Linked DNA regions of Homo sapiens. The protein of the gene in region 1 purifies or fractionates together with the protein of each later gene. This does not show direct contact. Each region holds a gene or a part of one and is shown on either strand. Other genes may lie near its edges. The genes, in order: NMNAT2 and FBXO45.

Region 1 (7,277 bases):
CAGCCTGGGCAACAGAGCTAGACTCCATCAAAAAAAAAAGCAAATGTGACACACTTATCAGAGTGACACACTTATTAAAATCCAAATAATGCCAAATGCTGGTAAGAATTTGGAGCAACAGAAAGTCTCATTCATTCCTGGTAGGAATATAAAATGGCACAACCACTTTGGAAGACAATTTGACAGCCTCTTAAAAAGCTAAACATAATCTTACCATATGATTCATATGGCTCCTTGTGTAGATTCCCTAATTTACGTCTTCACAAAAACCTGCACATGAATGTCATATCAGCTTTATTTATAATCACTAAAAACTGGAAGCAGCAAAGATGTTCTTTGGTAGATGAATGGATAAACTGAAGTACTTCCAGACAATAGACTATCATTTAGTGATTAAAAGAAATGAGCTGCCGGCCGGGCGCGGTGGCTCACGCCTGTAATCCCAGCACTTTGGGAGGCCGTGGCAGGCGGATCTCCTGAGGTCAGGAGTTTGAGACCAGTTTGGCTAACATAGTGAAACCCCATCTCTACTAAAAATACAAAAAATTAGCTGGGCATGGTGGTAGGCGCCTGTAATCCCAACTACTTGGGAGGCTGAGGCAGGAGAATCGCTTAAGCCCGGGAGGCGGAGGTTGCAGTGAGCTGAGATGGCGCCACTGCACTCCAGCTTAGGGGACAAGAGCGAGACTTCCTCTCAAAGAAAAAGAAAGAAATGAGCTATCGAGCCATGAAAAGACATGGAGGAACTTTAAATGCATACTGCTTAGTGAAAACAGCAAGTCCAAAGAGGGTACATACTGTATGATTCCAACCATATGGCATTTTGGAAACGTCAAATCTATAGAAAAAGTAAACAGAACCGTGGTTGCCAGGGGTTTGGGAAAAGAGGAGGCATGAATGGGTGGAACACTGAATTTTTAGGGGATGAAAATACTGGGTATGATACTATAATGAAGGATACAATTGTCAAAACCCACAGAACTCTACAACACAGAGTAAATCTTAATGTAAACTATTGACTATAGTTAATAATGTGTTAATAATGATTTGTCAAGTATAACAAGTGTGCCACACTAGTGCAAAATTATTAATATAATGGGGGAAACTGCATGAAGGGAGGTAAAAAGGTGGGAGGGGTCTGAATATATGGAAGTCTATGTACAATCTGCTCAATTATTCTGTAAATCTAAAACGGTGTTACAAATAGTCTATTCATTTTTTTTTTAATCTAAGAAATTTCACATTGAAAGAAAAAGAAGCAGCCAAGTGCCGTGGCTCATGCCTGTAACCCTTGCATTTTGGGAGGCCAAGGCAGGCAGATCACTTGAGGCCGGGAGTTTGAGGCCAGCCTGGCCGACACGTGGAACCCGTCTCTACTAAAAATACAAAAATTAGCCAACCATGGTGGCTCATGCCTGTAATCTCAGCTACTTGGGAGGCTGAGGCATGAGAATTGCTTGAACCCAGGAGGTAGAGGTGGCAGTGAGCCAAGATCGCACCACTGCACTGCAGCCTAAGTGACAGCGTGAGACTTTGTCTCAAAAAACAAAGAAAGAAAGAAAAAGAAGCAAATATGGTGAGATCTTTTTTCAAGTGTTAAGAAATCCAGCAAAGTAATTCTGAAAACTTGCTTGTAAACTACACAGCCAGCTTTGCTGCCCAGGCCGCCTTCTACTTAAAAATTCCTTCACTATAAACTCCATGCTAGATTTTTCCTCAGTGGAATAAGCTCAGGCCCTGTTGACAATTTTTGTTTTGTTTTGTTTTGTTTTTAGATGGAGTCTCCCTCTGTCACCCAGGCTGGAGTGCAGTGGCACGATCTCAGCTCACTGCAATCTCTGCTGCCCGGGTTCAAGCGATTCTCCTGCCTCAGTCTCCCGAGTAACTAGGATTACAGGCGCCTGCCACCGCGTCTGGCTAAGTTTTGTATTTTTAGTAGAAAAGGGTTTCACCATGTTGGCCAGGCTGGTCTTGAACTCCTGACCTTGTGATCCACCTGCCTCGGCCTCCCAAAGTACTGGGATTACAGGTGTGAGCCACCACACCCGGCCCCTGTTGACATTCTTAAAAGGAATTGTTTTGGAAGTAAGATAGAACCAGACTTTTCAGTCCCTTCCTTGTTTGCCGAAATTTATTGCGAAAATAAAATTGGGTTTGTCTGATAGATTTGAAAAAGCAATATTGCATACCTTCCAAAGGATAAAAGGCTTTTATCTGGCCAAATTTTTCGTCTCAACCAAGTCTAAGATGGTGGTCTTCTGGGTTGATTGCTAATTCTTTGTAATTATCTACAAGGCCCTTTAAATTTGTTTTGGTGGTTTTTCTCTTCTGAATAATTAGATGAGGCAATCAGCACATCTTTCATATTATAAGGAGGCTTTTATTTATTTATTTTTTAAATACTACTCCTCCACATTATAACTCCTGCAAGTGACAATAGGGGTAAATTCCAATCTGTAGCTCTAATGGCTGCTAATGAGGCGCTTGTTTTAAATCCTTCTGAGCTACACTGGCTCCTCCCACAGAGGACTTTTAAAACAGGATGAATCTCCTTGAGTTCTAAATCCTTTTGCTTTGGGGGCTGAAATCTGGTTCTGTAACCTTTTGAATCACCAACATTTGCTTTGAAAGTTGACATTTTCTATTTAAATGGCAAGAGAGATGGGAAATAAACCCCAGCATTACAGAGCTGAGCGTATTGATTTCAATTATCACCTTTAATCCATGCCTTTCCTCTTTATAATGTGTGGGTTTCTTCTCTTAATTAGAAAGAGCCAGGGATTATCTGCACAAAACTGGAAGGTTTATTGTGATTGGCGGGATTGTCTCCCCTGTCCACGACTCCTATGGAAAACAGGTGGGTTCCTTCCTGTGCCCCTCTCCTCTTCAATCCCCGTCCCCCCATCCCTGGCCTGATAGTTCCTGGCAGAAAAACTGCCCCCGCTCTGTCTCTGCTAAGATTCCTGGAAACACAAAATGCCCAGGTCCATGCGTCTATCCTGCTTCCCATCTCAGGACCACAGTCGGACCTGAGTGGATGGGCGTTGAAGCAGTAGCTGGAAAGACCAGCTGTCCATGACCGTAGAGCCACTTACGGGCTGGTCAGGACTCACTGAAAGAGGAGCAGAAACACCCACTGGGTGTGGCTTGGTATGGTGGATGCCAGATTGGCAGCTGGTTATGGGTTGAGCTGCACTGGGCAAGTCTTCTCAGGATTTTAGGAGAAAACGGCCTATGCCTTTTATAATCTGATTTAAAATTCATATCCCTGCTCATCCCTCCCTGCCACGTGTCCCGGCAAATCTAGGAGCTCCACCCATCATTCCCCCTTTCTCCCACAGATGCACCTTGGTGGGCTCTGGGGAAACTCACCTAACCAGCCAGACTGAGCCATAAGACAAGGCCACATTTGCTGAGTTAAGTCTCATCTCTGCAGGGCACACAGGGGCTGCTTCGCAAATGGAGGCTCATCTATCGACCTTGTTGGGGTGGTATATACCACACACCCTTTATTTGTTTCCTTTCCCACCACCATTCCAGGCCTGCCTGTGTGGCAAACGGACAAGTAAAGGGGTCACATTCTTCATTCCCTCTCACCACTGAAAAATGGCTGCACTTTAACAATGGGTGGGCTTGGGCTGGTATCCCAAGGATGTTGTGGGGAACGGAGGGAGTCTCCCAATGATTGCTCTGTTGCTTCCCAGGGCCTCGTGTCAAGCCGGCACCGTCTCATCATGTGTCAGCTGGCCGTCCAGAATTCTGATTGGATCAGGTAGGACTGGCCTGAAGATGCCAGAGGCAGTGGCCCGGAGACTTACTGGGAGTGGGGTGGGGAAAAAAGAAGAGTTCCAGCAGTAATTTGGATCCTGAAAGGATGGGGAGGCAGGGGCAAGATATTAGCCTTGTGGAGGCAATAAGTAGACCTCCAGGGATACCTATAACTTTATTTTTGAACCAAACTGTGAGGCCCATGAATGTAAAGAATGTGCTTGAATGTTTCATCTGCTTTGACATCTCTGAATCCTGGCATGATTCTTGGAGCTTCCAGAAATATCACTGGGTTTTGGGTGAAGCATGACCAGAAAATCAGAAATGCCTCTCACTTTCATTCCCACTAACTTCCGCGAACCCTCACTACCTTTCAGGGAATGTTCCCTCACCTTGACAATTTCCCATTCCTGAACTCAGGCTCCCTAAGGGCCCCACACTGGCCCCAGGAGACAGGTGCGGGCCTGCCCCTAAGGGCAGCCACACCAAATCACACCCACTGGGTGGCTTTCCTGCTCACTGCCTTTCTGGCCAGACGTGCTGCTAGGAAGGCACCTCCACCCACCTCCGCTGAGCTTGCAGTGTAATTAAAGCAAGCTTCCACTAATTATGCTAATGATGTTCCCCAAAGTTCTTACCGTTATAATTTGCATGATAAGATGATGTTTTAAAAAAATAATGGCATGCCATTTGTGCTGTAATTTCCCCCACTATGGAAAAATAAGCAGCACCTAGAGGTTTCCATGAAAGGGGCGAAGTGACGGGATGCTGACCTCAGAATGAGGAATGCAGAGAGTTTGCCCAGGAAGAGCGGGGTGGGCGGGAATGAGAGCAGTGAAGGGAAGCCACAGTAATAATTCAGCAGTGATCCTTGCTATTTGTGCGCAGTGATTTGTGTGAGAAGCACATGCCCTTTATAGACTTTCTTATCCCCCTAAAGATAAAGCTTAGGTAGAGAGACAGCTGCTTTTTCTCAGGTGAGAAACAGGCCCAGAGAAATGAAAGGGCTTGAGCAATGATACATTGATACACCCGTAGGCAAGAAAGGATTAGAAATGAGGCCTCTTAACATTGTAAGTCCTGATCTTCTGGGGATGCTGGGGACCTTGAATAAGGGTCCAGTGAGGAAATCACTGGGCAGGAGACTGTTACTGCTTGGATGTGCTTAGAAGATTCTGGAATAATTCCCTCATGCATTCCACAACTATCTACTGAGTGCCTACCACCTTCCCTGGGCTGCTCTAAGTTGGAAAATCAGAATCCTGAGAATTGAGATCACTAGGGAGTCTAAGAGCTGCCTCTAGAGATGGGGTTGGCTGGGGTGGGGCGCCTGACACTGGGATCCCATTTAGCCAGGTGAAGTGTTTGTTTCCGGCACAGGTGCGCTCCCAGGGCACAGGGCCTGGCTAGGGATCTAGGGGGAGCCAGGGTCCCGGCAAATGGCAAGCTGACTCTCTAAGGGTTTTCAGCTAGTGGGATCTCATCTCTGGGCACTTTAGGCATGTGTATGTGGTGGGGTGGTGGGGTAGGGTGGTGGTGTTAAGGGGATGCATGACTGCTAAGAAAATGTTAGACAAGGCAGGGCACGGGGGCTCATGCTTGTAATCCCAGCACTTTGGGAGGCCGAAGTGGGCGGATCACCTGAGGTCAGGAGTTTGAGACCAGCCTGGACAATGTGGTGAAACCCCATCTCTGCTAAAAATACAAAAATTAACTGGGCATGGTGGCATGTGCCTGTAGTCTCAGCTACTCAGGAGGCTGAGGCAGGAGAATCACTTGAACCCAGGAGATGGAGGTTGCAGTGAGCCGAGGTCTTGCCACTGCACTCCAGCCTGGGTGACAGACCAAGACTCTGTCTAAAAAAAAATCATTAAGTTGGCAATTAAGCCCCAGTGCTGCCTCAGTCTGGGGCTGGATCCCTGCTTACGTCACAAGCAGTATCCCGGAGGGGCTGGCCATTGTTGTGTCTGCGCCCTCTCATCTGACTGTCATGTCTCACCTCCACGCCCACAAGGCACCTCACTGCAGAGGGAGGCAGGGAAGACTGATTCTCGAGGGTTTGCAGCCTGGCAAGGATAACCTGGGCCACCACTTGACAAAGGCCTGGCTCAGCTAATCCTTGTCACAATCCTCAAGGGTCCAAAGGAGGGTTTATTTTGCAGGTAACAATAAGAGCAAGATGCTGTACTGAGCATTGTACACATAAAACTTACCGAGCCTTTCTAACAAAACTGTAAGCTCGTTACTATTGTTATTCCCATTTTACAGATGGGGAAGGTGAGGCACTGGGAGATCACATAACTTTCCCAAAGCCACACAGTTGCAAAGAGCTGAGGCTGGAATTAAACCCAGGCAGACTGGCACCAGCATCTCTTCTCATAAGCCTATGCCATGCTCCTCTCATTTTACAGAGGAGGAAACTGAAGCTCAGAAGAGTGTTTCACACCCAGGTTTTATCTGATTCAAGATCTAAGCGCATGGTATGGCCAGATCTGCCATGCTTCCTGAGCTATGATTTTTGGAAGGTAACAATAAGGAAAGAATATGAGAACAGAAACCAAGGGAAACTTCTTTCCGATGATGTTAGGGTGGACCCTTGGGAGTGCTACCAGGACACCTGGCAGACGACCTGCAGCGTGTTGGAACACCACCGGGACCTCATGAAGGTGAGCTGGGCCAAGCCTGGGGATGCGTGAACCACCAGAGTGCAAGGGCGGAAGGGGCTGGACCCACAGAAACCAGGCAGGGAGAGGAGAGGGTGCTGCTGGCCTATCGACCTGCTTTCAGCCTCTTATTTCTCTGCCGGTTGTGAGAGAGACCAGCCTGTGAACAGCATGAAGAACAATGAATGAGGAACCCCGAGTAGCACCAGGGTCTGTTCCCTGTCTTCCACCCTCTGTCTTGACCTCCCATTTGGGGTGTTGCTGCTGGGTATGGTGGGCAGCTTTTATTAGCTGGGAGCAAGTTCAAGGTGGGATTAAGGAGACCACAGTGATAGGACTTCAGAAAGTGAGGGAGGAGGAAACTGGACAATGAAAGGCAGGAGAAGAGAGAAGCACTTAGGGGAGGTACAAGCAGCCTGTGGGGGCCCCACTGGCCCCCTTACTCCAGGACAGGCTGCTGTGGCTGGGGCACTTCACACCTGCCAGTCATTGCACCCCATTCCCACCCATTCCTCCTCACAAGAGCCCCACAGGCAGATGGTGTCTGATGCCTGTTTTATTAGTGGGTAAAAGGGATCACAGAGAGGAGTCCACATATCTGAGCACACACAGTGAGTGTTTGGTGAACACAGATAGGCGAGAGCTTCTGTATTCCCCATTGGGGCCTGGGGCCTGTGGCCGGGCTGCAGAGACTTCAGGGCTGGTTGCCAGGTTAGAATGGGCTCCATACCAGCCAGCAGCACTGGCCAGAGTGTGCAGAAAGCACCCTTCCCAGATCAGTGCCAACCCATCCACTCCACAGTGACAGGATGAAAAGCAATGCCACCGATGGCGAGAAGCCTGACC
Region 2 (7,277 bases), on another chromosome or scaffold:
TGTTGTTTTGATAATTGACTTGTAATAGAAATGTTCACATGATTCAAGATTCATATTATAATATGTAATAGATAATGTGTTCGTGTGAGTCAAGCTTCAATAGAAGCAAAATGATATCAAGCAAAATGTTTTCCTTTCATCCTTGTCGCTCAGCTACCCGGTTCCTCTCCATGTATGCAACCTGTCTTACTTTTTCTTTTGTATCCTTCCAGAGATATTTTAGGTTTCTGAGGTTTTTAATACTTTGCTTTTCTGCTATGTGCATTATAGATGTTGTAGACTTGTACCAATCACTGTTCATTCACACATTGTAGGACTTCCCTTGAATATTTTGAGGATAAAAGATTAATTCAAAAGGAGTCAAATAGTCTAGTAGGAAATCTTTCAGTCTAGTAGAGGAGAGAAAAATGTATAGAAAGAACTGCTAATGTGTGGTAGAAATTGCTCCTTACTGTTACAGACATAAAAAAGTATACTAGAAGTTCAGTGAAAGGAGGAATTTACAAACTGAGTGGAGGATTGGAGGAGATTTGAGGTTGAGCTTATATTTGAGCTGAATTTTAAAGATGAGGAGGAGTTTAGTATTTTAGGAAGAGGAAGTACTCTGAGCAGAAGCAGGACAAGAGGAAAGTAAAGGGTTTGTACAACATATATTTTTATTTAAAAAAATGAGTGCCAGGCACTATGCTCATTTGCAGATGCAATGGCAAATAAAACAAACACAGTCTCTTAATGGATGTCTTGCCTTATGGAGCTTACAGTCTAGTAGGGGAAATGGATATTAATCAAATAATCACACAGATGTAAAACCGCATCTGGTAAGTAGTATGAAGGAAAAATACCTAGTGCTCTGATTGTCAGTAGTGGAGGATTTAACCTGGTGGAGAGGTGAGGGAAGGCTTTCTCAGATCCATGTACTGAGACCTGAAGGATGATAAGTAGGCAAAGGGGAGAGAGAACAGCCTTCCAGGAGGGAACCTTATGAGTGTGAGGGATGGAAAATATGTCAATGTGGCTGGAGCACAGAGAGCAAAGGTGATGCTGGTTTGAGATAAGATGGAAGAAGTGGACTGGGACCAAAGCGTAGGGAAGCCATTTTGAGTTGTAAGCAAGAAGGATTTGAGGTGTGGGGATTGGTGATATGATTATTTTGCATTTTAAGAGATTATTTCTGACTTTAGTATGGAGAACTAAATTGTTGGTTGGAAGAGGACCTTAGAAATATGGTAGATCAATTAGGAAATAGGTAGTGGAGGAGATAGAAATGGGCAGATTTAGTAAGTAAAATCTATAGAATTGGCAATAGATTTGAAATAGGGATGAGGAAGAGGGAAGTGGTAAGGATGACTCCTAGTATTTGGCTCACATAATGTAGAGATCAGTTGATCTAGATTTTTTTTTTGAGATGAGGTCTTGCTCTGTTGCCCTGGCTGGAGTGCAGTGGAATGATCATAGCTCACTGCAGCCTTGAACTCCTGGGCTCAAGCGATCCTCCCACTTCAGCCTTCTGTGTGGCTGGGACTACAGGCATGTGCCACCATGCCCAGCTAATTTTTATTATTATTTTTTTTTGTAGAGATGTCTCATTATGTTGCCCAGGCTGGTGGGCTAGGTTTCGAAGAAATGGCAGTGAGTTCAGTTTTGGGAGAGCAGCATTTACAGTATTTTTGAGACAGAGATTTCCAATAGGCAGCTGTTGGAGGTTGGAGCTTAGAGGAGAGATCTGCGCTAAAGATATAAAATAATATAGTTAGATTGAATGAAAGGAAGTAGTGGGAAATATTATAAAGCTATATTATGGGACTAGATATATCATGGAGGGCTTTGAAATATAGCCTTCAGTCTATAGTTTGGGTTTTGTACTACAGTTGTAAACCATAGAAGTTTGAACAGCAGAGTGACAAAGGCTCTACTTCAAAAAGACTAGGCCATAGATGAGTTGGAGAGGGCAGCGGTTAGTGCCTATACCAGAGATACTTAAGACTGGAACAGGTACATCGAGGAGAGAAGGGGATGGCTGGAGAGCTGTCGTAGAAAACAATATACATAGGTAGACAGCTGACTGGGTGAATGGGATGAGGAAGATGGATGTGTCAAATGGATTTTCCCAGGAGCCTGGATAACAGAGAATGATAGGAAAAGGTTTAGGGATAGCATAGAACAGGAAAGTGGAGTTTATTAATCTGTTCAGTTGTTTTTTTTTTAAGTTCATATTTTACATATCACCCCGTAGCATTAATTATTTAAGTCATACTTGGCATCTGATGAGAATTCTCTAAAGTTCAGACTTAGATTTTAAGCTAGGTCTTCATGCTGCTTTTGCCATAACAAAATTCAGGTTGTGCATGGGAATGTGAGGCTATGGGTTGTTTTTAATTTATTAATTTGGTCTTTATTTTCCTTTTTTTTTTTTTTTTTGAGACAGAGTCTTGCTCTGTTGCCCAGGCTGGAGCGCAGTGGCACAATTTCAGCTCACTGCAACCTCTGCTTCCTGGGTTCAAGTGATTCTGCCTCAGCCTCCCAAGTAGCTTGGATTACAGGAGCCTGCCACTACGTCCAGCTAATTTTTGTATTTTTAGTAGAGACAGGCTTTCACCATGTTGGCCAGGACGGTCTCGATTTCTTGACCTCGTGATCCGCCTGCCTCGGCCTCCTGAAGTGCTGGGATTATAGGTGTGAGCCACCATGCCCGGCCTATTTTCCCATTTCATATGAAGTTTCCAGTATCTGTTTCTAAAAAGTAAAGACACTTAATGTAATCACAATATGGTTATCACATCTAAATATAAATGTACATTAATTCCTTAATATCAAAAATGCAGTGTTCAAATTGCCAGTTGTCTCATAAATGTTAAATGTTGCATTTTAAAGTTATATTTTATATAATCAAGATCTATATAAGGGTCCCATGGCAAAGGTTGATATGTCTCTTAAGGCTATTTTAGTCTACATATTCACTCACCATCTCCCCAACCTCCCACCTTATTTGTTGAGGAAACAAGGTGGTTTACTCTCAGCTCGATTTTGCGGATTTCATTATCATCGTGTTGCTTGACATGTTCTTCTGTCCTCTATTTCCTACTGAGGTGTGATCAATTTAGATTAGATTAGATTTTTTTTGCAAGTTATTTTGTACTAGACTCAGTGGTTAAAAGTGTGTTAGAAAATAAGAGCTGCTAAATTGTTACGTGGCACAGAAAGTGGTGGGCAAGCACCCGGCAGAGAGAGACATCAAGGGAATTGGGTGGCCCTGGTTAAGAATAGCTTAATAGAGGTGATCTTAGAGAATGTGTGGGAGAAGAAAGCACATATAATACTTTCAGCAAGAAGAACATCATCAAGGTAGAAAGGGAAATAGGAAGAATCAGATTTGGAGGGCTGTGAAAGCCAGGCAGAAGAATTTGCAGTTGGTGATGCTACTAAGTATGGAACTACCAGAGGTTATAGAACTGGGATGAGATATGTAGTAAAGGTGCTGTTTTAGAAAGACAGGTTTGGAAATAATTCAGATAGAGAGTTGAGGACTGAGTTTGGAGAATTTGGTTGGGGCAGAGGAAGGGTGGTCACCAAAAAAGGAAATGATACAGGATCAGTTCAGGGAAATAGGAAGATGTCATAGAAGTTTGAGGAAGAGAGGGCCGGGCGTGGTGGCTCACGCCTGTAATCCCAGCACTTGCGGAGGCCAAGGCAGGCGGATCACCTGAGGTCAGGAGTTTGAGACCAGCCTGGCCAACATGGTGAAACCCTGTCTCTATTCAAAATTCAAAAATTAGCCGGGTGTGGTGGTGCACGTCTGTAATCCCAGCTACTCGGGGGAGGCTGAGACAGGAGAATCGCTTGAACCCAGGAGGCAGAGGTTGCAGTGAGCTGAGATTGAGCCACTGCACTCCAGCTTGGGTGACAGAGTGAGACTCTGTCTCAAAAAAAAAAAAAAAGAAAAGGAAGTTTAAGGAAGAGGTTGTCAATAGTGTCAATGTGAAATTGGAATTTATAAGAATTGGGGAGTAGGCATAGGGAAATATTAATTAAATATTTTATAGTGAATTATTGATATTATTCTCTTGAGTTATTTAGACAGTATTTGCTATTTTGGGGACATGTTCCTTCCCCATTTAATCTTCTTTTCCTTTCTTTTCTTTGTTTCTTTTTTTTTTTTTGAGACAGGGTCTCACTTTGTCACCCAGGCTGGAGTGCAGTGGTGTGATTTTGGCTCACTGCATCCTCTGCCTCCTGGGCTCAAGCATTCCTTCTGCCTCAGCCTCCCAAGTAGCTGGGATTACAAGCGTGCACTGCCACGCCCAGCTAATTTTTTGTATTTTTACTAGAGTTGGGGTTTCGCCATGTTGCCCAGGCTAGTCTTGAACTCCGAGTTCAGGCGATTTGCCCACCTTGCCTTCCCAAAGTGCTGGGATTGCAGGGGTGAGCCACCGCGCCCGGCCCCTTCATTGAATCTTACGTTTTGGTCTTATAAGTGCCTTAAAGTATTTTATAATACGAGCAGATAGGAAAAACATTGGGAATGCCTCAGTTTTATTGTGAATGCATGGGATACTGGAAACAAATAGTTCTCTGTTTTTAAATCTGCGCTCTGCAGCTCACTGAAACGGTAGAGTGCCAGCGAATGGTAAACGAACAGGTGGTGAGGGGACTGGATCCTTGATCTCTCTTTGGGCCTCTTGCACTAACTCGCGGTTGAAATCCCTGAGAAGGACTAGGTGACCTTTAAGGGTCTTCCTAAATGCTGACATTCTATGCCTCTGGAGTTGATTTTTCTCAGGTTAGCTGAAGCATAGGTCCCAGCCTTCCACTGCTTTGGGTAGTTTGACTAAAGTAGAGAAGGGATTTTTTAAAAACATACTAGCCAGGCAGGCGTAGTGACTCGAACCTGTAACCCCAGCTACTCGGAAGACTGAGATGGGAGTATCACTTGAGCCAAGGAGTTCAAGGCTGCAGTGCGCTACGATTGTGCCACTGCACTGCAGTCTGGGTGACAGAGTGAGACGTTGTCTAAAAAAAATTTAAAATACACAAACTAAAAGTTTAAAATTGTTTATGAGAAATTGTTATTGTTTGTATAGAAGAGCTATTTTCATACCCTCTTTATTTTGGAAGTGTAAACCTTTGTATTTACTGAAGAGTCAACTAACTTGTCTTATTGATAGCTTCTCTTCATAAATTCTAGTAGTTGAACCTAGATGCTATCTAAGGGATTATTTGATTTGGTAAAATGAGATTGGTGATTTTTTTATTGTGTAAGTCATATCCAGCAAGTAGGCTGAGGATCTAAGGTAGTTTGTGTTTACTAAAATTTTTCATAAACTTTAGAGCTGCTAGGATTAAAGTTTCTGTTTTATGTAAAATATAATTCTTTTTGATGACAGCATTGCCCATATGAAAACTGTACATCTCAACTTTTTGGTATAAAAATATCAAATATAAACAAAAGTAGAGAAAATAGTTTGATGAACTTCCTTATACCCATCACCAAGCTTTGCCAATGATTAATTTATGGCCAGTCTAGTTTCATGTTTCTATTGCACACTCTCCCACTCCATCTCTGGATATTTCAAAGCAATTCCCAGATACCATTATTTTATCCATAAACGTTTCAGTATTATCTGTAAGATATAAGGATTTTTCTTTTTTGTATCTTTTGATGTTTTAAGAAGTCTGTTTGAGGAAATACTACAATTTAAAATTTTGGTCAGTGATGAAACGGTTGGCATTTATTTTTTAATGTTATTTATTCTGTTAGTATTCCATCCTGAAACTTCAGCCATTATTTGGAAATACTTGTGTTATTTTAAAATATATAACTTCGTTATTTAAAAACATACAGCGTGAAGTTTGGGTAATTTTTAATATTTAAGAAAAATAAAATTGTTATTTATTTGGTCTGTTTTTCATCTTTTTAGATACGTGCTTTTCAACATGCCTTCAGCACTAATGACTGCTCCAGGAATGTCTACATTAAGAAGAATGGCTTTACTTTACATCGAAACCCCATTGCTCAGAGCACTGATGGTGCAAGGACCAAGATTGGTTTCAGTGAGGGCCGCCATGCATGGGAAGTGTGGTGGGAGGGCCCTCTGGGCACTGTGGCAGTGATTGGAATTGCCACAAAACGGGCCCCCATGCAGTGCCAAGGTTATGTGGCATTGCTGGGCAGTGATGACCAGAGCTGGGGCTGGAATCTGGTGGACAATAATCTACTACATAATGGAGAAGTCAATGGCAGTTTTCCACAGTGCAACAACGCACCAAAATATCAGGTGAGAAACTGGGGTTTTTCTCAAGTATGGGCCTTTGTCAAATCACGCCTTAATTTGTTTTAAATTTACAAATTTTTATATAGCAGTTTTTGTCTTTTTGGTAATTTTTATTTTTATTATTTTTTTATTTTTTCAGATACCCAGACTTCAAGGAGATTTTTTTTTTTTAATGTTAGGGGGTTATAGTTAATTTTGTTGGGTGTTATATTTTGATTTTGGCTATGCAGAAAAATATTCTTTTTTTTTTTTTAGACAGAATCTCACTCCGTTGCCCAGGCTAGAGTGCAGTGGCGCCAACTCGGCTCACTGCAACCTGCACCTCCCAGGTTCAAGCAATTCTCTGCCTCAGCCTCAGTAGTTGGGATTACAGGCGCCCACCACCATGCCTGGCTAATTTTTGTATTTTTAGTAGAGACAGGGTTTCACCATCTTGGCCAGGCTGGTCTTGAACTCCTAACCTCGTGATTCACCTGCCTTGGCCTCCCAAAGTGCTGGGATTACAGGCGTGAGCCACCATGCCCAGCCTCAAGGAGATTTTTTGACCATTTTTAAATAAATGTATAAATGATCTATCTCAATATTTGTTTCCTAATACAACTTTAAGCAGCCTATTTTTGCTCCAGATCAGGGGTTGGCAAACTTTTTGTAAGGGCCACGTAGTAAATCTTTAAGTCTTTGCAGTCCATATGGTCTCTGTCACAACTTTTTTTTTTTAATGTCATTTTCAAGGTAAGGATCTATCACGAGTTTCAACTCTATTTATAGTACAAAAGCAGTCATCGATAATACGTAAATGAACGAACATGGCTGTATTCCATAGACCTTATTTATGGGCTGCAGGACAGATTTGGTCCAGGGGCTGTAGTTTGCCAGTTCATGCTCTATATCAAGCTTGTCCAACCCACAGCCTGCATGCAGCCCAAGATGGCTTTGATTGTGACCCAATGCAAATTCATAAACTTTCTTAAAACATTATGAGATTTTTTTGCAATTTTTTTTTTTAAA

The links.
Region 2: the proteins of NMNAT2 (region 1) and FBXO45 purify together in Homo sapiens (co-immunoprecipitation; 3 studies listed by BioGRID and IntAct, with this or other methods). This does not show direct contact.

Annotation. Positions count from the first base shown.
Region 1 is NC_000001.11:183,289,285-183,296,561, reverse strand, and holds part of NMNAT2 (nicotinamide/nicotinic acid mononucleotide adenylyltransferase 2), read left to right. Parts: intron 1-2,768; coding exon 2,769-2,857; intron 2,858-3,704; coding exon 3,705-3,772; intron 3,773-6,355; coding exon 6,356-6,434; intron 6,435-7,277.
Region 2 is NC_000003.12:196,571,538-196,578,814, forward strand, and holds part of FBXO45 (F-box/SPRY domain-containing protein 1), read left to right. Parts: intron 1-5,915; coding exon 5,916-6,272; intron 6,273-7,277. UniProt on the Homo sapiens protein: Component of E3 ubiquitin ligase complex consisting of FBXO45, MYCBP2 and SKP1. Functions in substrate recognition but also plays an important role in assembly of the complex.